Homo sapiens: one gene and its partners. The protein of the gene in region 2 interacts with the protein of the main gene of each other region in a pairwise test. Each region holds a gene or a part of one and is shown on either strand. Other genes may lie near its edges.

Evidence for each region.
Region 1: the proteins of CAPN2 (region 2) and PLP1 interact in binary tests that used the Homo sapiens proteins (3 or more experiments, as listed by UniProt).
Region 3: the proteins of CAPN2 (region 2) and ZDHHC17 interact in a two-hybrid assay, tested with the Homo sapiens proteins (one large-scale study listed by BioGRID and IntAct).

The regions. Positions count from the first base shown.
Region 1 is NC_000023.11:103,779,743-103,783,396, forward strand, and holds part of PLP1 (myelin proteolipid protein), read left to right. Parts: intron 1-3,654.
Region 2 is NC_000001.11:223,746,916-223,750,569, forward strand, and holds part of CAPN2 (calpain-2 catalytic subunit), read left to right. Parts: intron 1-81; coding exon 82-250; intron 251-2,123; coding exon 2,124-2,207; intron 2,208-3,654. UniProt on the Homo sapiens protein: Calcium-regulated non-lysosomal thiol-protease which catalyzes limited proteolysis of substrates involved in cytoskeletal remodeling and signal transduction. Proteolytically cleaves MYOC at 'Arg-226'.
Region 3 is NC_000012.12:76,812,487-76,816,140, reverse strand, and holds part of ZDHHC17 (palmitoyltransferase ZDHHC17), read right to left. Parts: intron 996-3,654; coding exon 931-995; intron 285-930; coding exon 122-284; intron 1-121. UniProt on the Homo sapiens protein: Palmitoyltransferase that catalyzes the addition of palmitate onto various protein substrates and is involved in a variety of cellular processes.

The DNA of each region.
Region 1 (3,654 bases), on a different chromosome or scaffold from region 2:
CCCTGGGAGGTGGGTGGGAGGGGAAATATAGTCTCCAAACCCATTAAGGTAGAACTCCAGCCAGTAACATCACTTTCCCCCATTGCTTTTGTCTATCGTCCTGAAGCCTTGAAAGCCATCCCCTGGGTACAGGTCTTTGTCTTGAAAGAAAGCAACAGTAGAAATGCCTTCCCTGCCCACAGCACTTCAGGTCTAAAGAAGACCAAGTGAGGACAGTGACATGATCAGGAAGGGTCACAGCAGCCATGGTAGGTGAATGGAGCAGCTTTTCCTTCCTTTCCTGCTTTCAGAGCCTACTCAGTGCCAAACTTACATCAAAAGCTCAGCAAGTACTGATTGATTAATCCCTCTTGCCTACGGCAAAATGGCCCTGAGGGCTATCTCTCAGCTCTGCACTGGCCTCTGAGCTGTCTGCCAGGCAGGGCTCTAGAAAAGAGTCCCAAGGAAGAGAATAAGGTTCCCCAAATCAGCTTCACACTGCAACAAGGAGAGAGGAGGAAATGGTGGGAGACTGACCTGAGGAACAAGGTATGGCTACTATTGTCTCTAGTACCAGTTACTTCCCTTTCATCTTCCCATTCGTGGGCAAGGTGGAGACAATGTGCCAAGGATAAGTTTTAACAATCAAAGTCCTACCTCAGCTTCCCAATGCTTGCACATAAATTGGAATGTGTACATCATTCATTCTGTCTCTCTCTGTGTGTGTGTGTGTGTGTGTGTGTGTGTGCGCGTCTGAAGAGGAGTGGGGAGTATAGGAAACAAGATAGTCCAGATGCTGTTGCCGTGGTAATACTAAATCGTGTCCAAAGAGGAGGCTGAGATTCCTTTTTAGTTAACCTTGTCCACATGATTTGACTATCCAGCAGGCTTGGATTCCCAGGCCCCAGAGACTTCGGGACTGTTTTCCAGCACTTGAATGTGGTATATAAGTGCTGATATCAAAAGGGATATGTAGGAAAGACAAGATTATAGGCAGGGCATTGTCTGACCAGGACGAGGCCCGAAGCAAAAGTCTTTGTTTGTCTCTGGCACCTCTTGATAATTGTTGTTTTACTCCTAGAACCCACCCACTGATCCCCATCCATCCCTAGTACCAGTCACGGCTGCTCTAGCATTTCGGCCTTGTCAACTACTGCAGGCCCTGATCAAGGAGGCCTCTGTTCATGGGGTAAGGTTAAGGGGTGGGTTCTGGGAGGAGGGTAAGACTGTAGTGCAGATTCGAGACCTAGGGAGGTGGGGCCAGTTTCTCACTCAATGAGCCTGCCTGTTGTTTAGCTCTATTGTATAGGGTTCTTCTATCTCTCCCTTTGTCAGCTGGATTCAAGGGACAGGCTGGGAATTGTGCAGGGTACAATTGGTCTCTTTCTACCATTCCTTTCGATGAAAGCCCTTCCTCTCCTTCCTTTGATGAGTTCCCAGATTCACACTGAATTTCCATCATGGAGCTGGTCCTTGAGGCGGGCCCAGGGCATGGGAAAGGAGGGAGGGAGGGTTGGGAGCTCTTGGTGCCTGCTTAAAGAGACAGCATCAGGATCAACACAGTCCCTTGATGAACCTGGATCTGTGTAAGTCACATTGGTTCTGTTGATCTCTGTCAGACCGCTGTGAAGAGCGCTGGTGAGAAGGGCTTAAAGTTGGAGTATCAACTATCACAGATTGATTAGACTTGTTTTGGGAGTTTGTATACAAATGTAGCCAACCATGACATGATCTTTTCCCTTTGCTTACATTTTGCCCACACAACTTCGTTATATCCATTTTAACACTTGCTTATAGGTAGCTTTAGATTTTGATTCACAGACATATGTTTGTTCACCCCAACAGGATTTCAAGTTTTCTAAAGAAAGGGACTGGCCTTTTAATTCCCTTCTGTTTCTCCTAATGTCTATGTCACTGCTAGTGTGCTTAATTCTTGTACTGAATTCACATAAACAGAAATGAAAGAAAAACACTGGAGGGGGTCATTATTTTTCTCTATGACCTTTCATCAAAGTCAGGTGGCTTAATCTGACTGAGTTGCATTGAGAAATGTTATTACTATATGGTTCTTTTATGCCAACTCTCTCATCTCGCAGTCTGTACTTAGACTGGAAATGTGAGAATGTCTCTTGAGAGAGCCAAGGAACTTCTCCCCTAGAATCTCTTCCAGCCTTCTTGAATCAAACTCACACCCTTTCAACCAGGAGGGGTTCTGAAATGGAGAGCTTTTGGCTTTAGGCTATTGTTCACACATACCCAAGGGACATTTCTTGGACTGTGAAAAATCAAAGGGAGCCCAATGGATCTTTTCTCAGAATGCTTTGATTGTCAACTACTTTGATGAAAAAATAATTTCTTGCAGGCTCTGAGTTTTTCTCAGTTAGAATCTAAAATCTGATTCTTGCTTGGACAGACTGACTGAGATTCTTCACTTCTGCTGAACTTAAATGCCCCCAAAGCAAACATTTCATCTAGGTTGTGAAGAGATGAACATCTGATGCTTATGCTGATATTACTGAATTGTTTATAGCTTAATAGTGATAGATTTATCTAAAGTCATTTATTTCAGACTTTACATTAGAAACTCATTAAAGCCTACTTCTTTCTTGTCCCTTGCTTTGAGCTGTAGTGGAGCAGAAAAGGGGATGCTAAGTTATTCAAGTTCTAAGAAAATAGAGGAAAAATGGATGTAAAAAGAAAGGCTATGATCTGGTGACTCAGAATTGCTCCTAAGGCTTAGCCATTTATCACCCAGTAAGAACACAATCCATGACACTCTCAGGTTATTTGGATGATGATTGAGGGATCAGATACACTCAAGAGGATGTTTCCCTCTCATCTTTGCAACCCTAGAGGTGGCATCACCTAACGCTTAAAGTGGAGTTCTCTTTTGGCTAGCAAGAGTTCAAGTTCCTCCATCCCTGACCATACCTGCACAAGCACTTAGCCCTTCCCAGATGAAAATGCTGGGATGAGTGAGTAGGCCCAAGATGGTCACTTGCTAGGGTGGATGGCTCTTCTTACCCTCGGCTAAACAAACAGTCCTGCCATTGTTCCCTGAGTCTGACCCCCTCCCCACCCCCCGGCTGCAGGCCCCTGTGGAATACCAATCAGGCTCCTGAGATCTCAGGAAAGAACAAGGCTTCTTTGTCCGGGGGAGCTATGGAGGGCTCTGTCCAAGCCCTGACCCTGTGCTGGGGAGAAAGGGAACAGTGGGGTCACTGACCTTCTTCTCCCCCCATCCCCAGGCTTCAGAGACTTTCTTTACTAGAAAAGTCTAAGAGTTTGGGGGTGGGGAGGAGTTGGATAGGCAGAGAAGGAAAATGGCAGTACTGTTTACTTCTAAGCTCCTTTTCTTGACTTATAGGCTGAATCTAGTATCTTAACCTGTTGAGAAAGAGGAAGATCAATTTCTGGAATGTTTTCTGAGAACAACAATCGATTTCAGTTGTTGTGTTTTTCTCTGTGGTATACATGTGTGTATGTGCACATTTGTACACATGCATGCATGTGCGTGTGCACACACACAGACACACCCATGGGCCAGCTCTGAAAAGACACTCTTCCCAAGCACGTTTGCAAAGTTCATGCTGAGTAAACTCAGCCTCCACTCACAGCAGCACAGCTACAGATTGCTTCTTATAGAGGCCAAGTTTCCTGGCAGCAATGCTTTAG
Region 2 (3,654 bases):
CGGTACTAGGGGGTGGCTGTTTGAGAGATTATAGCATCAGTAGTGTCAAGGGTAGCGGCAGCGTCTAATCCCCTCTTGTAGGATCAACGGATGCTATGAAGCGCTATCAGGGGGTGCCACCACTGAGGGCTTCGAAGACTTCACCGGAGGCATTGCTGAGTGGTATGAGTTGAAGAAGCCCCCTCCCAACCTGTTCAAGATCATCCAGAAAGCTCTGCAAAAAGGCTCTCTCCTTGGCTGCTCCATCGACGTAAGTCCAGGCTGCCTTCCCTAGCCTCACCCCATCTGCTCTTGCTGAAGGGAGGCTCCCACAGTGCCCAAGGGAACCCACTGCTCCTGTGTACAACGTAATGCAGCCCTCGTCCACGTAGGGGCCAAAGGAAAACCTCCCTCCACCCTCTGAAGGTCCGCTGAAAATCAACTGGCAAAAGGAAGACTAATACAAGAAATGGCATACAAATGTATGAATGTGGACAGGGGAGAATCACAAGAGATTTCCCTACCACGCATTGGGATACAGAGGGTTATATTCCCTTCCTCTTAGGGGAAGGGAGATGGGGAGGTGCGGATGATTTTAGGGATGTCGTAAATGATTTTTAGGGGAATTCATTGGGCTTAAAGAACATAAATGGTCTGGGATAAAGTCTGTTGGGCCTGCAGAGCAGACAGTGGTTTGTGACAAGTCTGTCTAGCCATGTTGACAGACTTGTCTTTCTTCCTGCAATATGAGTTCAGTTCATAATAACTCATGGAAAGGACCAGACGTCATTGTTTTCATCTTTGGCAGGTCCAGACTTTAGGCAGGTGAGGGAACTTCAGAGAATAGCTTCCTCCTGTGCTTTGGGGGAGAGTGGATCGAGAGACAGAAGGAAAGGGGAGGTCAGAGAGATCTTGAGGCTTCTTCAGTTTAGCATTTCAAAGTGCCATCTCTTAGAGGTATTGGTTTCTGAGCACCCCAGTGTCTACCATTATTGCTCATCACCTGGAAGCCAAGGGTTGCTAGGCAAAAGTCAAGCTGTCTGGGGTGTAATGGATGGGGTGATGGTGCCTCCAGCCCTTCTGTCTTCAGTCCACTTCCCACTCTTAGCCTGCTCTGAATCACCCCCACCCCTCTGACCACAGGTTCCCTGGGAGCCCCTGCCACCTGCTGCCCCTGCCACCTTCCCCTCCATCTGCAGTGCTGTGCAGCCTTCCCCTGCACTCTTGCAGAGCTAATAGGCCCGTGGGAGACTTCGGAAGGAAGAGGAGGAAAGATTTCCTCATAATAGCCTTGCTGGCAACGCTCACCAGGGGATGGGAGGTGGGCACTGTGCCCAGGAGCCTTGGAGCAAAGGCTGTGCCCAACCTCTGAGCCCTGTCCCATCCAGGTTCTGGTCTCTGCGGGGGACAGAGATAAGAAGCCCTGGCTTTTGGAGCCAAAATCTAGGTCAGACTCCCTAGGCAGGAATTCTCAAAGTTTATCAGCAGAACACGTTGAGGCAGAAGACCCTTTCTGCTCCAGCCCTTCTTCCCAGGCTCAACCTTCATCAGAATAGATAGGGGAAAGGAGAGGCTGTGAGGCGTTCTTAAAACAGAAGCAAATTCTGACTCAGACCGGAATAAACAACCGTCCTAGTATAAACCCTACAGCTGGGCTGGGCCAGACCACGGAGCATGGGCTGGTGGTGGGGCGAGGGTGTGCTCAGTGTCCCTGGGCCACTCAAGGCTGTCTGGGTATCAGCCCTGCGCCATCGAGGACCCCCTCCGGCCCTCTCTCGGCCGTGCGCCCTTTCCCTGCGCCATCGAGGACCCCCTCCAGCCCTCTCTCGGCCGTGCGCCCTTTCCCGCCCTTCCCAGCCTGCAGAAATCCGTGGATGCGCTATTCACACGGGAATGCCTGTGCTCGTTCCGCGAGAGGGTTGCATTCCGCCTTTTCTCTGGTATTCTCGGCGTTCAAGCATTTGAACGGGGTAGGAAAGGTTCTCCAAGTGCAAGAAAGCGCAGCCCTGAGCCTCCCACCCCAGGCCTCGGCCGCTGCGCTAGTGCGTCCGGCGGTCCCGCCCGGCAGTAGGACAGAGGGAGCGAGGGAGTCCGGGAGGAAGGGAGAGCGGGTGCGGCCAGTCTGACGGTTGCTGTGTTTGCAGATCACCAGCGCCGCGGACTCGGAGGCCATCACGTTTCAGAAGCTGGTGAAGGGGCACGCGTACTCGGTCACCGGAGCCGAGGAGGTAACGGCCGGCGCGGATGTGCAGGGGTCCTGCTGTCCTGACACGATGGCCACAGGCACAGTTTGTGGTGATGCCCAGGGGCCCGCGCGGCCCCACGGTGGTCCAGTTTACACTCGGGCCCCGCACTCCTGAAGTTCCGCGCGGGAGGAGAAGGGCGTCCCTTTCGCAGCTCGGGCGCCGGGTGCGCCGCGCTGCCACCTGGTGGCCGCAGTGGCCGGCGCCAGGGGCCCTGGTTTTACTTGTTTTAGATGTTACCCTGTTTTACAGTTACAACCTTACTATTTTGATAAGCTAAAAATAATAAAACAATGCATCTTCATAGTGTTTTATACTCTATAAGGTGCTTTCTCTTTTGATCTCGTAAAAGTATTCGTGCCCATGTTCAAATCTGACTGCCTCTTACCAGCTGTGTGGCCTGGGCCAATTACTGGAACTCTCTGTCCCTTAGTTTCCTCATTTAAAAAATGGAAATAATGATAATATCCATTGGAAGGTCGTGGCGATTCAATCAAGTTAATATATGTAAAGTGCTCAGAGGTGACTCACACATCATATATAAGGAGGTAGCTGTCCTTGCTGTTGTGATCACTGTTGTTATTGAAAATATTATGGGCTGACATGGTGGCTCACACCTGAAATCCCAACACTTTGGGAGACCGAGGTGGGAGGATCACTCGAGCCTAGGAGTTCAAGACCAGCCTGGGCAACGTAGCAAGAACCTGTCTCTACAAAAAAAAGTTAGCTGGGCATGGTGGCATGCCACTGTCGTCCCAGCTACTCGGGAGGCTGAGGTGGGAGGATCACTTGAGCCCAGGAGGTCGAGGCTGTAGTGAGCCATGATCATGCCATTGCACCCCAGCCTCAGCGACAAAGTAAGACCATGTCTCAAAAAAAAAATTATCAAGCAACTCAAGTTCACTGTTAATTACAGAACCCAGTCTAGACCGCAGATCTTCTGCATGTCCAGTGTTCTTTTTTTAACCTTGATTTTTTTAACTACCCCCTCACACACACACGTCTTTTTATTTGAAAATTTTCACGTATACAGAAAAGTTGAAAGACTAACATAATAACTATCCAATTGCCACTCCCCTAGATTCACCGATTGCTAACATTTGCCATGTCTGCTTTATCTATGTGTGCACTTTTTTTGAGCCATATGAAAGTAAGTTGCAGACGTTATGACACTTCCCTCCTCAATACTTCAGCATTTATTCCCTATGAATAAGGACATTCTGTTACATAATTCCTCTACTGTTGCCACACCTAAGAAAATAACATTAATTCAGTAGTGTCATCTATTATAAAGTCTATACTAACATTTTCCCAGTTGCCCAAAATGTCCTTTCTGGCGACCCACCCCAACCCCATCCAGGACTCAATCCAGATTCACTCACTGCATGTGCCTGTTATCACCAGTGATCTTTCAACAAATGGTAAAGCTTCT
Region 3 (3,654 bases), on a different chromosome or scaffold from region 2:
CTGTAAACCTGTATTGAAGAAGTTTCTTTCAACTCTGACAGTCTATGAAAAACTTGTTTTATTACAGAATTCACATATTAGCCACATTTCATACAGTATTATCAATATAGAATATTTTTACCTTGATATTCTGGGCATCAACATTAGCTCCAGCTTCCAGAAGAAGGCTAATGACTGTGGTATTCCCTGCTAGCACTGCCCAATGCAGAGCAGTGTTTTTGTGATACTTGTCACCAAGGTTAACTGAAACATTGAATGTTAAAAGCAATCTAGTTGGATCCACACTGAAAAGGAAAAAAAAAAAAAACAAACAACAACAACAACCCTAATTTCAATTATAGAAATCATTACAAATACTAAACTGATTATGCTTACAGTAGCATTCCATTTTGGAACACTTCTAACCTACTCAACAACTTTAAAATCAATAATGAGACAATATTCTAATATGAAGTATTAAGTATGTATGACACCATATAAAATAATATATTAATAGTTTCAGGGGATAAGCAACTTGGTCCTGATATTTTCTATTTTTGACCTAGAAATGGCATTAATACTTATACAATTCAAGAATAACACTTTTTAAAATTTAAATTTGGAGTCTTCCAAAAGTGATCTAAGACAACTTACTAATTAATAAATTTGTCAATATGTAAATCACATGAAAAAATTAATTAATTTTTAAAAAAAGATAACTTCTTTTCTTAGATATTGTTAAAAGAGAAACAGATTAAGGAAGCTCTAATCAGTGAGGGAGAGACAGCACAGAGATACCAGAACATCCAAAATGGTAATTTATATATACTATAGTCATAATAAAAACTGTAAATATTAGTGAGTATAGTATTAACTGCTTTTTCCTCTCTCTTACTTCATATTGTATTATGCTGAAATGGCCTAAATAAGTTTTTTATAGTCATTACATACCTATGTGTTCTATATGCTGCCCACATTAAAGGCGTCATTCCATTCTGATCCATCATATCTACATCCTGATAAAGTAAAAAGAAAAAAAGTCAGACAGTTAAATTATAAGTTCCTAACCAAATTTGCTTGGAAAAATCTAATCTATATATAAAAGGAGAAGCGAATATAATACTACTCAATCAAGGATAATGTATGAAACTTTCTTTCTTAACTTTAAAATGAAACTCTTGTCACTATATACTCTAGTGAACATATATCATGCTTTTACATTATTCCCTTTTAAGATGTTTTAATCAGCCTTTCAATGTTTCACATTTAAAATTCTTAACCTATTCTGACCTTTCAACCACAAAGGATAGGTTAAGTGATTAAGTTTCTGAAAAACTTGTTTATACTAATGCATAAGAGAGAACGACAAAACTGTTTATTCCTAGGCATTTCAAAACAAAAAATAAAAAGAACTGACATTTTAATATACTCAGTTTTTACTGTTACACATGTACATTTTTAGAGTTAAATGATTCTGCAGTTTGTGTGGAAAAAGCAACACACTAAAGCAATCCCCCTGCCTTACTTCCCACCATTTTCACCATTTTTTGGCTCATTATTTTTATATTTACCTCCATATCTTTAAATAAGATGTTTGAATTGCTACTTCTTGATTTTTCAGTTTCAGGCATTATTCTGAAATTCCTTGGTACAAAAAATCTGAATTTTTCTCTTTCCTCTCTGCTACATCACAAATGCACGCCTTTCCTATTCTTTCCTCTCAAGAGATCTATTGTAATTCTGGTTCATATAAACATTTAATACTTGATATGTATTATTATAAATATGCATAAATACTATTCCCAGCCAAACCATGTAATAAACCACTATTTTTCCTCTTCTACTCAATTTTTTGCTTTCCCTGGCACCATCTTTCCCCCACTACTACTTAGTTTTTAGCAAATTATAACTAAAACTTCCACCTATTAAACCGAAACTCTTTCCTAGTTATCTAATTCTCCTTGCGCAAGACTTTCTGATGTATCAGGGACTCTTATCAGTTTCAATGCTCTGAAACTACCTTTCCTAACCCACTCCATTCTGAACTGATTATCCTCTATGCCTGAAATGTGTGTCTCATTAACCTGGAGTACTTTGAAAATAAAAATCATCTCAAATCCATCTTCGTATTCTCAGTGCCCAGCAGAGTAGATGATCGAAAACCATTTATTAAAGGAAAAGACATGCTTATCTATCTACTTTTCTAGGCTTGGCTTTAGAATAAGACATGGTTTTGACTTCCTAGCTCCATCATATAATTGCTATGAGATTGTAGGCTAAATTACTTTAATTCTTAGTCTTAGCTTCCTCATTAAAAAATGTGAAATACAAATAACTTCATAAGACTTCTGTGAAGATTAAATAATGTGTGCAAAGCATCTAGTCAACAGCTGAGAACATAATGGATATTCAATAAATATTAAGTTTCTTCTTCTTCTCTACCCCATCTCCCATTCCTGAATTACATTAAGCAAGCAGTTCTAATCCAAGTTGTGTTACCTAATTCACCAATCAGTGGAGAGAGCAGAGAGTTACAGTAAGCACACTGTAAAACACTATCTCTATGCATCAGTTCTCTGTGAGCCACTGTTAGCAATAGGAATATGTCTCAAATGTGAACATTATCTAAGCATATTGAAGAAAAAAAATCTGAGAACCACTACATTAGATAAGTAAAGCATTTCCTTGGATGTCATTAACTTAGTCACTCACCATGCATACTGTCATAGAATGTTATGCCTTATCCATTACAAATCCATTTCTGGATTTACTTTAATAGTGTTGTCAGGAATATCTTCTGCAACCTCACTCAACATTTCCAATATGCAAGTACATTTTTTAAAATAATCCTGTGGCTTAAAAAAAATATGTTTTCTGAAGAAACAACAAACTTCCTTATTTCTTATATGAGAAGTAACTATTGTGACTTCTTTTACTCCTAATTTCCGTAGGACCTCAACCAAATTTCAGGTCTAATTAAAGCAAGCATGTAAATTCTTATGTTTAAGTTTCTCCTTCTTCTTAGTTGTGTTTTCATATCCTTTTTAAAAAATGATAGTATTAAAAATATCAATAAATAAAAAAATGTAAAATCATGGCACATCTCTAGAGTACTAAAAGAAAAATGAAATTCAACCTTTTCTCTCTTTGGGTCGGGATTTAAAACTTGGTACTTCTTTTCCAAGTTCAGCCTGGACGTATGGGTATTCTCTATTAGGAAGAATTAACAAGCCCAGATCAAAAGCTTATGGGAATTCCATGATCAACAGGGCTCCATAACTTAGCATTTTCCCCTTTTTCTCCTGAAAATCATCCAAAAGAATTGGTAGTGAGCACTAAATATATTTAACAATATAACTAAAACAAAACGATTGTGAAGAATAGAATGACAAAACTGAATGGAAATGTTATATACCCTGACAATGTAAAATTGATATAATTAACAACAAAATGGGAAAATGGAAAAAGGTTGAAATGAAAATATGCTGAGAGCCTCATCTATAGTAGCCATGAATCAAAGAAAACTATCTAAAGCTGAAAAATCAAGTAATAAAAATGTAGTAAAAATTTATCAGAACATAGTTAACATTAAGAAAAACAATATTATTGACTACAGTCGATAAAAGAGAAAGGGAAGAAGAAATAAAAATATGCTAATTTTATTACTGCTTATAA